Homo sapiens: one gene and its partners. The gene in region 1 interacts genetically with each later gene. Each region holds a gene or a part of one and is shown in the gene's direction. Other genes may lie near its edges.

The links.
Region 2: changes in ABCB7 (region 1) and LTO1 together harm fitness more than expected from each alone (negative genetic interaction), as found in Homo sapiens cells (one large-scale study listed by BioGRID).
Region 3: changes in ABCB7 (region 1) and PITRM1 together harm fitness more than expected from each alone (negative genetic interaction), as found in Homo sapiens cells (one large-scale study listed by BioGRID).

The regions. Positions count from the first base shown.
Region 1 is NC_000023.11:75,146,174-75,149,824, reverse strand, and holds part of ABCB7 (iron-sulfur clusters transporter ABCB7, mitochondrial), read left to right. Parts: intron 1-3,651. UniProt on the Homo sapiens protein: Exports glutathione-coordinated iron-sulfur clusters such as [2Fe-2S]-(GS)4 cluster from the mitochondria to the cytosol in an ATP-dependent manner allowing the assembly of the cytosolic iron-sulfur (Fe/S) cluster-containing proteins and participates in iron homeostasis.
Region 2 is NC_000011.10:69,668,706-69,672,356, reverse strand, and holds part of LTO1 (protein LTO1 homolog), read left to right. Parts: intron 1-537; coding exon 538-608; intron 609-3,651. UniProt on the Homo sapiens protein: The complex LTO1:YAE1 functions as a target specific adapter that probably recruits apo-ABCE1 to the cytosolic iron-sulfur protein assembly (CIA) complex machinery. May be required for biogenesis of the large ribosomal subunit and initiation of translation.
Region 3 is NC_000010.11:3,145,147-3,148,797, reverse strand, and holds part of PITRM1 (presequence protease, mitochondrial isoform 2 precursor), read left to right. Parts: intron 1-168; exon of another isoform or gene 169-506; coding exon 507-627; coding exon of another isoform or gene 628-630; exon of another isoform or gene 631-734; coding exon 735-811; exon of another isoform or gene 812-1,060; coding exon 1,061-1,226; exon of another isoform or gene 1,227-1,547; coding exon 1,548-1,648; exon of another isoform or gene 1,649-3,081; coding exon 3,082-3,202; exon of another isoform or gene 3,203-3,651. UniProt on the Homo sapiens protein: Metalloendopeptidase of the mitochondrial matrix that functions in peptide cleavage and degradation rather than in protein processing. Has an ATP-independent activity. Specifically cleaves peptides in the range of 5 to 65 residues.

The DNA.
Region 1 (3,651 bases):
TTTTTCAAATGTTAGTTCAAAGGTCAGTCCGTTCCCTGAAACCATTCCTTATAAGCTAATAAGACTTTGATTTCTCCCTCCTCTGAACTCCTACAACACTTTTTCCTACAAGTAGTTATGTATCTTGTGGAGGAGATAAGATTTTATGTGCCTAAAATGCTAATATATTCCAATCATCTTTTTGTTTTTATCTTCCACAGAGCTAGGCACGGTATGTTACATGTAATAGGTAATCAGAAAATATATGTAAAATGAATGATTAAACTCTATAACCAAACCAAAGCAAAAATCTAACATAATAATTAATAATATTTGCTCCACTGCTATACATTTGGAATTGAAAGCTAACTTTCTTCAGGGCAACCTCATAAGTTTGTCCGTTGCATTTCTGTCATTAGGCATATGGTACCGTGGTGGAGTAGCATCACTGATTGTTGTCAGTTTTAGTTCAATAACCAAAGCACACTTACTTTTTATCCTAAAATTTTTGAGTTACTTTATTTGTGAGCATCATTTGCTAAGATAAAGTGACTTACAGGATAACATTCTTTGAGGAATAAGATATAAAAATTTGCTGTTTGTAGAAATTTTAACTGCACACTGTATTTTGGGATGTTCATTAGTCCTCTGATTAAGTTTTCTTTACAATATCTAGAGAGGGATGGATATTAAAGTAGGGAAACCGCATCCTAAGGGTATAGTTCCTTAGGTGCTGATGTTTTGGGAGAGCAACTTTTAAACTTCTGCTTTTCAAAGCATATTAGAAAAAGACAAGGTGAAGCTTCGATTTTGGTTTACTTATAAAATTGTTTTTACTGATCTTGAGTAACTTATACTATAATATTGTAATATATTCATATTTTTGAGTGCATGAATGTTTGCTAAGTATGAACTCTTTCTTCAACTACTCTGACTGTAGTGACTTAATAACTGTGCATGTACATGTGTGCTTGCCTGCTACGTTTGCCATAACACCACAGATTGGGTGGCTTATACAACAGAAATGTATTTTCTCACAGTTCTGGAACCCATGAAGTCCAAGATGAAGGTGTCAGTAGAGTTGATTTCTTCTGAGGTCTCTCTCCTTGGCATGTAGATGGCCATCTTATACCTCTGTCTTCACACTGTCTTTTCCACTGTTTGTGTCTGTGTCCTGATATCCTCTTCTTAGAAGTATACTGGTCATATTGGATTAAGGCCCACCTTAATGACCTCATTGAACTTTAATTACCTCTTTAAGGGCCCTGTTTCCAAATATAGTCACATTCTGAAGTATTAGAGGTTAGGACTTCAACATATAAATTTGTGGGGGTGGGGAGTACACAGTTCAGACCATAACAATGTGTGTATGTGTTTGTATGTGTGTGTATGTATATGCAAATACATAGAAAATTGGAAAGATATACTCCAGTCTGGTAAAAGTGGTTACCTCGGGGGTTGGGGGGGGGTTTGGGATGCTAAAAAACAAACAAAAAAAATTTAATTTGCTATTATGGATACACAGACATAGTTTGATATACTGTACTTGTTTTTACAATGAGAAAAATATTTCATGTTTAAGCTTTTCAATTGATGAACTGACCTTTTTGAGTAGGTTATATTATGTTCATTTATTTGAAGTCCAATTTGTTTTGTCTGCTAGTAGTAATGCATTTTATCATCTCTGTAACTTTTATTTTATTTGTTTATTTTTTATTTTTTATTTTTTTGCGATGGAGTTGTGCTCTGTCACCCAGGTTGGAATGCAGTGGCACAATCTTGGCTCACTGCCACCTCTGCCTCCCAGGTTCAAGCGATTCTCCTGCCTCAGCCTCCCAAGTAGCTGGGATTACAGGCGCACACCACCACACCTGGCTAATTTTTGTATTTTTAGTAGAGATAGGGTTTCGCCATGTTGGCCAGGCTAGTCTCGAACTCCTGACCTCAGGTGATCCGCCCACCTCGGCCTTCCAAAGTGCTGGGATTACAGGCCTGAGCCACCACGCCTGGCCTTGTAACTTTTATTTTAAGTTCAGGAGTACATGTGCAGGTTTGTTACATAGGTAAACTTATGTCATGGAGGTTTGTTGTACAAATTATTTTATCACCCAGGTATTAAGCCTAGTAGCCATTAGTTATTTTTTCTGATCCTCTCCCTTCTTCCACCTTCCACCCTCTGATAGGCCCCAGTGTGTGTTGTTTCCTTGTATGTGTCTATGTGTTCTCATCATTTAGCTCCTACTTGTAAGTGAGAACATGTAGTACTTAGTTTTCTGTTCCTGTGTTAATTTGCTAAGGATAATGGCCTCCAGCTCCAGCCATGTCACTGCAAAGGACGTGATTTTGTTCTTTTTTATGGCTGCATAGTATTCCATGATATATTTGTACCACATTTTCTTTATCTAGTCTGTCATTGATAGGCATTTAGGTTGATTCCATGTGTTTGCTATTGTGAATGGTACTGCAATGAACATACGCATGCATGTGTCTTTATAATAGAATGATTTATATTCCTTGGGGTACATACCCAGTAATAGGATTGCTGGGTCAAATGGTAATTCTGTTTTTCATTCTTTGAGGAATTGCCACACTGCTCTCCACAGTAGTTGAACTAATTTACACTCCCACCAACAGTGCATATAAGTGTTCCTTTTTCTTCATAACCTCACCAGCATCTGTTATTTTTTGACTTTTTAATACTAGCCATTCTGACTGGTGTTAGGTGGTGTTTTGTTGTGATTTTGATTTGCATTTCTCTAATGATTAGTGATGTTGAGCATTTTTTTTTTTGTGTGCTTGTTGGCTGCATGTATGTCTTCTTTGGAAAAGTGTTTTTTTCATATACTTTGTCCACTTTATGTTTTTTTTTCTTGTAAATTTGTTTAAGTTCCTTATAGATGCTGGATATTATTAGAGCTTTGTTGGACGCATAATTTGCAAAAATTTTCTCCCATTCTATAGGTTGTCTGCTTACTCTGTTGACAGTTTCTTTTGCTATGCAGAAGTTCTTTAGTTTAATTAGACCTCATTTGTCAATTTTTACTTTTGTTGCAGTTGCTTTTGTTGTTTTTGTCATGAAATCTTTTCCCGTGTCTCTGTCCTGAATGGTATTACTTAGGTTGTCTTCCATGGTTTTTATACTTTTGGATTTTACATGTAAGTCTTTAATCCATCTTGAGTTAATTTTTGTTTATGGTATAAGGAAGGCTCCAGTTTCAATCTTCGGCCTGTGGCTAGCCAGTTATCCCAGCACCATTTATTGAATAAGGACTCCTTTCCCCATTGCTTGTTTTTGTCAGGTTTGTTGAAGATGATATGGTTGTAGGTGTTAGGCCTTATTTCTGGAGTCTCTATTCTGTTCCATTGGTCTGTGTGTCTGTTTTTGTACCAGTACCATGCGGTTTTGGTTACTGTAGCCTTGTAGTATAGTTTGAAATCAGGTAATGTGATACCTCCAGCTTCATTCTTTTTTCTTAGGATTGCCTTGGCTATTTGGATTCTTTTTTGTTTCCATTTGGATTTTAAAATAGTTGTCTCTAGTTCTGTGAACAATGTCAATTACCATTGACATTTAATAGGAGTAGCATTGAATCTATAAATTGCTTTGGGCAGTATGACCATTCTGACTATATTGATTCTTCCTATCCATGAGCATGAAATGTTTTTCCATTT
Region 2 (3,651 bases), on another chromosome or scaffold:
GGGTTGGGAACTCAGGAGCAGCTTTGCTGGGTGGTCCTGGCTCAGGGTGTCAGCCAGAGCCGTGTCACCTGAAGGCTTGACTGGGCTTGGAGGATCTGCCTCCAAGGTGGTGCTGTCACCTGACTGTGGGCATGGACGTCTCCATGGGGCTGCTTGTGTGTCCTCGTGACATTCAAGAGCGAGTGGTCCAAGAGAGCTGGTGAGGCAAGTGACACTGGCTTTTATCCCTAGACTCAGGAGCTTTGTGCTGTTCCTCCACATTCTGTTGGTTACGAAAGCCACCCTGGTGGAGTGTCGAGGGACCTGCACAGGGCATGGGTACCAGGAGATGAGGACTGGGGCATCTGGGAGGCTGGCTGCCCCACCGATGACCTAATTTCCTAATTTCCATTGCCTAATGCTCAACAGGTGCTTCCAGAACAATAGTGTGAGAAGCACCGCTGCCTTCTGCCCCCACCTTTTGTTTTGAGATCTTGGTAATGAAAGTGTAGCTAGTTGCTTATTAATTTCACTCTTAAATATTTTTCACATTCACAGATCGGGTGCTACCAAGGTTTTGCTTTTGCATGGAAATGTCTACTGCACAGTTGCACCACTGAGAAGGACAGGTAAAGGTGGAGATGTCTTTCTTTCTCAGCGTAGGAACCAGGAGTTCTAGTTCCATGGGTTACCAGCATGCCCTTGAGTAATCAATCTGTCTGTTCCTCATCTGTAAAATGGAGAAAATTATCAGTGTCAAGCTTGAGTGTTGTTAGGAGATTTAACGGAAATACTAAATAGAAAGTGCCAGGCACATTTTAGGTGTTTGGTGAACACTGGCTGTTGTTGCTTCTCAAGAGTTCTATGCTCCTGCCTTTTACCTGGAGTCATTAGTGCACCATGTGGCTTTTAGATACCCTACCAATAAAATAATGTTGACATTGATTGTATTTTCTCATTCACCTTTCCCCTGAGCTTCTAATAAACAAATTATAACAGTTTTGTATCACTTGGGCTCAGAGATGAGGACACCAGTGTCATCAGTTTTTTAATGTAGCCAACTAAGTCTGTTAACAAGAAAATGCCTTTAAATGTGTTTAACTCCTTTCTGGAACTTGTCAACACTCAGTAAGTGTTAGCTGTCATTTGAATTGTTTTTAGCCTTTAAAAACTCTTCTCGGCCGGGCGCAGTGGCTCACTCCTATAATCCCAGCACTTTGGGAGGCCGAGGCGGGCAGATCACGAGATCAAGAGTTCGAGACCAGCCTGGCCAATATGGTGAAACCCTGTCTCTACTAAAAATACAAAAATTAGCCGGGCGTGGTGCCATGTGTCTGTAGTGCCAGCTACTCGGGAGGCTGAGGTTGAAGAATTGCCTGAACCCAGGAGGCAGAGGTTGCAGTGAGCTGAGATAATGCCACTGCGCTCCAGCCTGGGCGACAGAGCAAAACTCCTTCTCAAAAACAAACAAACAAACAAAAACTCTTCTTCCTGCATTGTACTTACTGAAGCCCCATGTGACCCTGCTTTATCTATCTTCATTCTGAAGCTGGAAATGAACCCTTGAGATGGTTTGGATACTCTGCTGTTCATGGGCAGCAGCAAGCGCGGGACCTGAGCTGGTGCTCTGCGTCATTCTGACACCTGGTGGCCTTGCCTAGCGTGGGAGGGGCACAAGGAGAGTGGGTAACTCTCTCCCTGACTACGTGACTTGTGCTTTTATTTGAAATATCTTGAATTTCTAGAAATACCTTGAATATCTTGAATATTCAAATGTTTAAGAATGAGGATGCTTGCAACTGATACGGGTAGTTCTTTCTGCTCCGTTTGTACCAGCAGTTGGGAGTCGATGGGATTCTGGGTTAGCAGAGGGGCACTTGAGGACATTTTCCTCCTGGTTCTCAGGCAGCGGCCGGCAGCTGGGGATCCCAGGGGAATCGCTGTTGGCAGCCTGTGCTACCACTAGGTGGCAGTCAAAGCTGAGCCTGGCTCTCAACTCCAGGCCACAAAAGGATGTGTGTTCTTGGAGTTCTCCGCCTGTCTCCCTTCTCCCACAGCGGCAGAATCTGCCGGCTCCTGGAGAAGTGCTCCGCTGTGTGCCAGTGGTCCCATCCCAGGAGGTTGCCAGCCCTTACCCCAGAGCAGGGGTTTGCTGACGTCTGAAAGCAGCACACTCAGTCTAGCTAACAGAGAAGAACCGCTTTGGTTGACGAGGGGCTGGTGGAAGCCCTGCCAGACCCCCCTCGCAGCCGCCCTCATCCCATCCAGTAGTACCCAGAGGTCTCTTTGGAACCTAAGGCTTTATTGTAGAGCAGTGGTTCATGGATGTTTAGATCTTACATGTCAGGTTTTTTTTTTTGTTTTTTGTTTTTTTTTAAATGGTGAAGGGCTGATATTGCATGTTTTACCTGTAAATTTTTCCAAATAAGGATGTTAAGAGAAAAACACCTGCCACCGCATTGTCATTCAGCAAAATGCTGGGCATTGTAACACCAAAGAAACCACGGAGAGCGGCATCTCAGGCCAAAAGATGGTGCTTTCCGTTGAGTAACTAGCTTTCCGGTAAACTGCGTGACACTTCTGTCCCCGGCTTCAGCAGTCTGGTGAAACCCTCCTGCAGACCAGCGCGCACCGGGGCTGAGCACGGGGGCTCTGGCACCATCACTTTTCTTTCATTAGCCCTGAGCTGCTCACACCTGCCTGACGTGTGCCGCCTCTGATGGTGCGCCCGGCTGGGTGTGTCTGAGCAGCATCGCTGACCAGAAAAGTAACCGCTTGCCAAGTGGAAAGTGCGTGGTCCTCTGCATCGGGTTAGCATACAGCCACCTCCCACGTTTTGGCATCTCCCTTTGGTTTCCCTGGAAACCAGGTGCTTTGTTGCTAAAACTGACTTGCTTTGACCTTTCACAGTTTTGTATTTTCTCAGAGAGGTAGCCATGGTTAGCTCTTGTAAACTGGATGCTGCTGGCAAACTTGCTCTTCTCTGTATCCAGGAGCACCAGCTGTTTGCAAGTACACAGGAGGTCTTGGTTGCTTTGAATTGCTGTTGATTCATCCTAACTGTCAGTTCTTTAAAATGCCCGTTAATCGAGTATCTTGCCTACTCTGGCCACTCACATGGTCCAATGCGGCATAGAGGCAGCATGCTTCTCAGGACCACCTGTGGTTCATTGAAAAGACCTGGCCCCACGAGATGTACACATGTGTGGATTATTTTTAAACCCCTGCAGGTGAGAGCCCTGATCTCTAGGATCCAGAGGAAACCAAGAGACCAAGAGACTAACATTTATTGAGCACCTACTCTGTGCTGGAGTCCAAGCTTCATGTCAATTTTTTTTTTTTTTTTTTTTGAGACGGATTCTCACTCTGTCCCCTAGGCTGGAGTGCAGTGGCACAATCTTAGCTCACTGCAACCTCCACCTCCCAGGTTCCAGCAATTCTCCTGTCTCAGCCTCCCGAGTAGCTGGGACTACAGGCACACACTATCACGCCCATCTAATTTTTGTATTTTTAGTGGAGACAGGGTTTCACCATATTGGTCAGGCTGGTCTCGAACTCCTGACCTCAGGTGATCCACCCTCCTCGGCCTCCCAAAGTGCTGGGATTACAGGCGTGAGCCACCGAGCCCGGCCCATGTCAGTTATTTAATCCTCTTGAAAGTCTGTGAGGTTG
Region 3 (3,651 bases), on another chromosome or scaffold:
AGCAGTGTCACTGTGAATGTTTCTTTCAAAAGCATGAGTGCTGAGAGGAAACTGCTTTTCTTAAAAACTTAAAAAACCTTTAGTCTTCGGACTCCCCCGCCCAGGCTACCAGACATTCGAGCAAAACAAAGGAAGTATGTATCACGGTGATCTGGGTGAAGAGAGTAGGGAGTAGTCATAAAACATTTATTGAAGAGCTTACAACTGGAAATGCCTATTTTAGAATGGTGTTTTAAGTGCAGACACTGGCTGCCCAAGTGTCTTGTGCCTCTGGACGCTAACTTCCTAGGCGGGAGAAACTGGGGTCTCCCTGGGGAAGGGGGCACATGAACTCTCGAGGGCGAAGGCCAGAGTGCACCTGCTTATGACCTTCGAAGTGTAGAGAGGTTGGCAAAGCCGCAGTTATTGAATTAATGGAAGCAACTTGTAACTCAAGATGCACGATTTTAAAAATGATTCAGTAAAGACTGACTTGTAATCGGGGCGATGCTTCTCTGCTGTGTCAGGCTGGGCTGCGGCCTTCTTGACTACCGGGAGCAGGCTCAGCAGATAGAATTGAAGACCGGAGGGATGAGTGCTTCTCCCCACGTGCTCCCCGACGACTCACACATGGACACCTACGAGCAGGTAGCCTGGTACCGTCAGACGACTGCTGCGGTGGGAAGCTTTTCTCCAGTGTCTGTCACTGTTCGATTCGGCCCTAATTCCTTTCTTCTGTGTTTTCTTTGGTTCAGGGTGTGCTTTTCTCCTCTCTCTGCCTGGATCGAAACCTGCCAGACATGATGCAGCTATGGAGTGAAATATTTAACAAGTAACTTTATTTGCAAGAGTTGTCCATTCTTGGGGTGTACTAGAGATCTTTGTTTGAAGTACTTTAAAGGAGACAGTTTTACTCGTGTGTGTTGTTGTTTTCCAAGTCTGACTTTTACTTGTAGTTCATATGGACTTATAAAATTTCTTTGGTTGTTAAAGTACTCTGAAAACTTAATCAACTTTCCATGATACTGAAGGGACGTGAGGAATGGGTCTCCAGGAATTTTTTCTTCTCCTTTTTCCATAGCCCGTGCTTTGAAGAAGAGGAGCACTTCAAGGTGCTGGTGAAGATGACCGCCCAGGAGCTCGCCAATGGAATTCCTGACTCTGGGCACCTGTACGCATCCATCAGGGCAGGCCGGACCCTCACGCCCGCAGGGGACCTGCAGGAGACCTTCAGCGGGATGGATCAGGTGGGAAGCTTGGAAGGAACCTCTATTACTCCGGTTTAGCCACATATTCCAGAGTTACTAATTTCTTTGGGAATACATTAATTTATGTCCCAGAAATGCTAACTTTCTAACTGACTAAATATGGGGAAGAATTGGTTGGTTGGTTTTGACTCATCTTCCTCTTTGTACCACCCTGCATCCCAGTTCCAGCCCTGCCCAAGCCGTGCACTCGCACACATAACCCCTGCCCAAGCAGGGTTCTGATGTCACAGGTGCTTGGTTCAGACTCAGCGGGTCTGTTGTAGCCTCTGCCTCTCTCTGAGCGAGTTTCCTCTGGCTTAGGTGCGGCTGATGAAGAGGATTGCAGAAATGACAGATATCAAACCCATCCTGAGGAAGCTCCCGCGTATCAAGAAACACTTGTTAAATGGTGATAATATGAGGTGCATGTGTGATTTGTTTCTAAATATTTTATGATTCATTCTATTAAGTATAGTTTTTAGGTATTTCTTACTTGTAGAAACTTCAAGATAGAGTGCTTGGTAAAGGTTATAGAATTTATTGTAAATGTCAAGTGTTCTAACAAACTAAGAAAATATTTTAAGCCTATTAAAAGTTGTAGGAGATGGGGAAGAAAGCAGGCTAATTTTGTGCTAGAAGTGCAAATAGATTGAGGGCAAGTAGTTATATTGCTTCCAAAAGCACATGGTCCGTAACTGAGGTATCTGTAAAGGTGAGCTTGCTGAAGACCAGAGTAAAAGTGCAGTTTCTTATAAAATTATGTGATGCTTTGAGGAAACATCTGGCAGCTCAGTCCTATACCTTCAGTTGGCCTTATGCCCTCAGATGTGTGAGCATGAATAAAGTTTAAAAATGATTGTTTATTTTCAGCATCTTATTGTCAGTGACATTGATGTATTCATCAGTACTTAACAAGAAAATGTTTGCTGAAGTCACTTGTCCTTCTTCACACAGAGTCCTGATGCCTTTCCCCAGTCATGTCCTGAGAATCCCTGGCAGATTCTACAGGGCGGTCTGTGGGTGGCCAGAGGTGAAGCCTGGCGATCAGGGTCTCTTGGCATTGGGCTCAGGCAGGCCTGGCTTCTGGTGCCGCCGGGTCAGCACTCACACTCGCTCCCAGGCGGTCCTGGGCAGCTGACCCACTTGCGTCTTCTGCTTCCTCCTCCATAAAACCTTCCTTTGCAGGTTTATCGTAAGGAATAAAAGAAAGAATATCTGCAAGGCAGCATACATGCCTGGGATATAGTTAGTATTAATATAATGGTACCTGCTGTTACTTTAACTAGAATAAGTTCAGGATTTACAGCTGAAAGGAAAAAATATACACTCTGTCAATATACTGTAGAGTTCAAGTAGCTTTTATATGATAGTAGTATTTGCAATTCTGTGGAATTTGGAAGAGTTCTATTTTCATGTAACTTTGAGAGCATGGTATTTTTTTGCAGTTTATAATGTTCTGCTTTAACAACCAGTTCACATTTTCAAATTGATGACTTCTGGACAGTAATTTTAAAAGTTGTCAGTGTTTTGATAGTGTAATTCCGAAGGCACGGTTAGCAGATCTTAATAGTCTCTGTATTTTCTTTGCTCTTCAGAAGAACTAGAGTTTAGAGTCACAGGCTCCGCGTATGGACGGCTTCATTAGCTGCCACATTGAACTGTGCGGAAATCTCTTGATAACCTGAAGCACTGAAGAGCAGGGAGGCGGCCGTGGCATTTCCACATTTGGCTGCTGTTTAACACTCTGAACAGTATTTTCTATAAAAACAACATTATTGAGTTATACAAAATGTGATGAATTACTAAAACTGTTTTTTCTAACAGTGGTTTTATGTATACATAATTTTTCAAACAGGTGTTCAGTGAATGCGACTCCTCAGCAGATGCCTCAGACAGAAAAAGCGGTCGAAGACTTCCTTAGAAGCATCGGTCGGAGTAAAAAGGAACGGAGGCCTGTGCGCCCACACACGGTCGAGGTATGCACTGGTGGTGCTGGCGCCCGGTGAGCGCCTGGTGGGTGCCAGAGCAGCTCTCATGTTTTACACGCATTAACTCAATTCTCAGAGCAGTCCAGCATGTGGGGGTTCATATCCCCCGTACGCAGATGAAGAAACTGAGGTTCAGGAGGATTAAGTATCTTGTGCAGTGTTGGGCCAGTTAAGTGAGTTCAGACCCTGCGGTGTGGCCTTAGATCCCGCGCTCACTTCTGTGCCTTGCAGTGAGTAGTCTGATAGGAAAACAGACTTTGGCTGGAATACGCTGGCAGAGGAATGGCCCAAACCGTAGCCTGAAGGCTGTTCACTGCTGTTTCTTTGACTCATGAATCCATGGATTTGACATGGAACAGTGATGTCGGTGATAACTAACTTAGTAAATTTGATTAACTTAGAGAGTTGTAGTCTAGTTCATGGATGTCAGTAGAGAA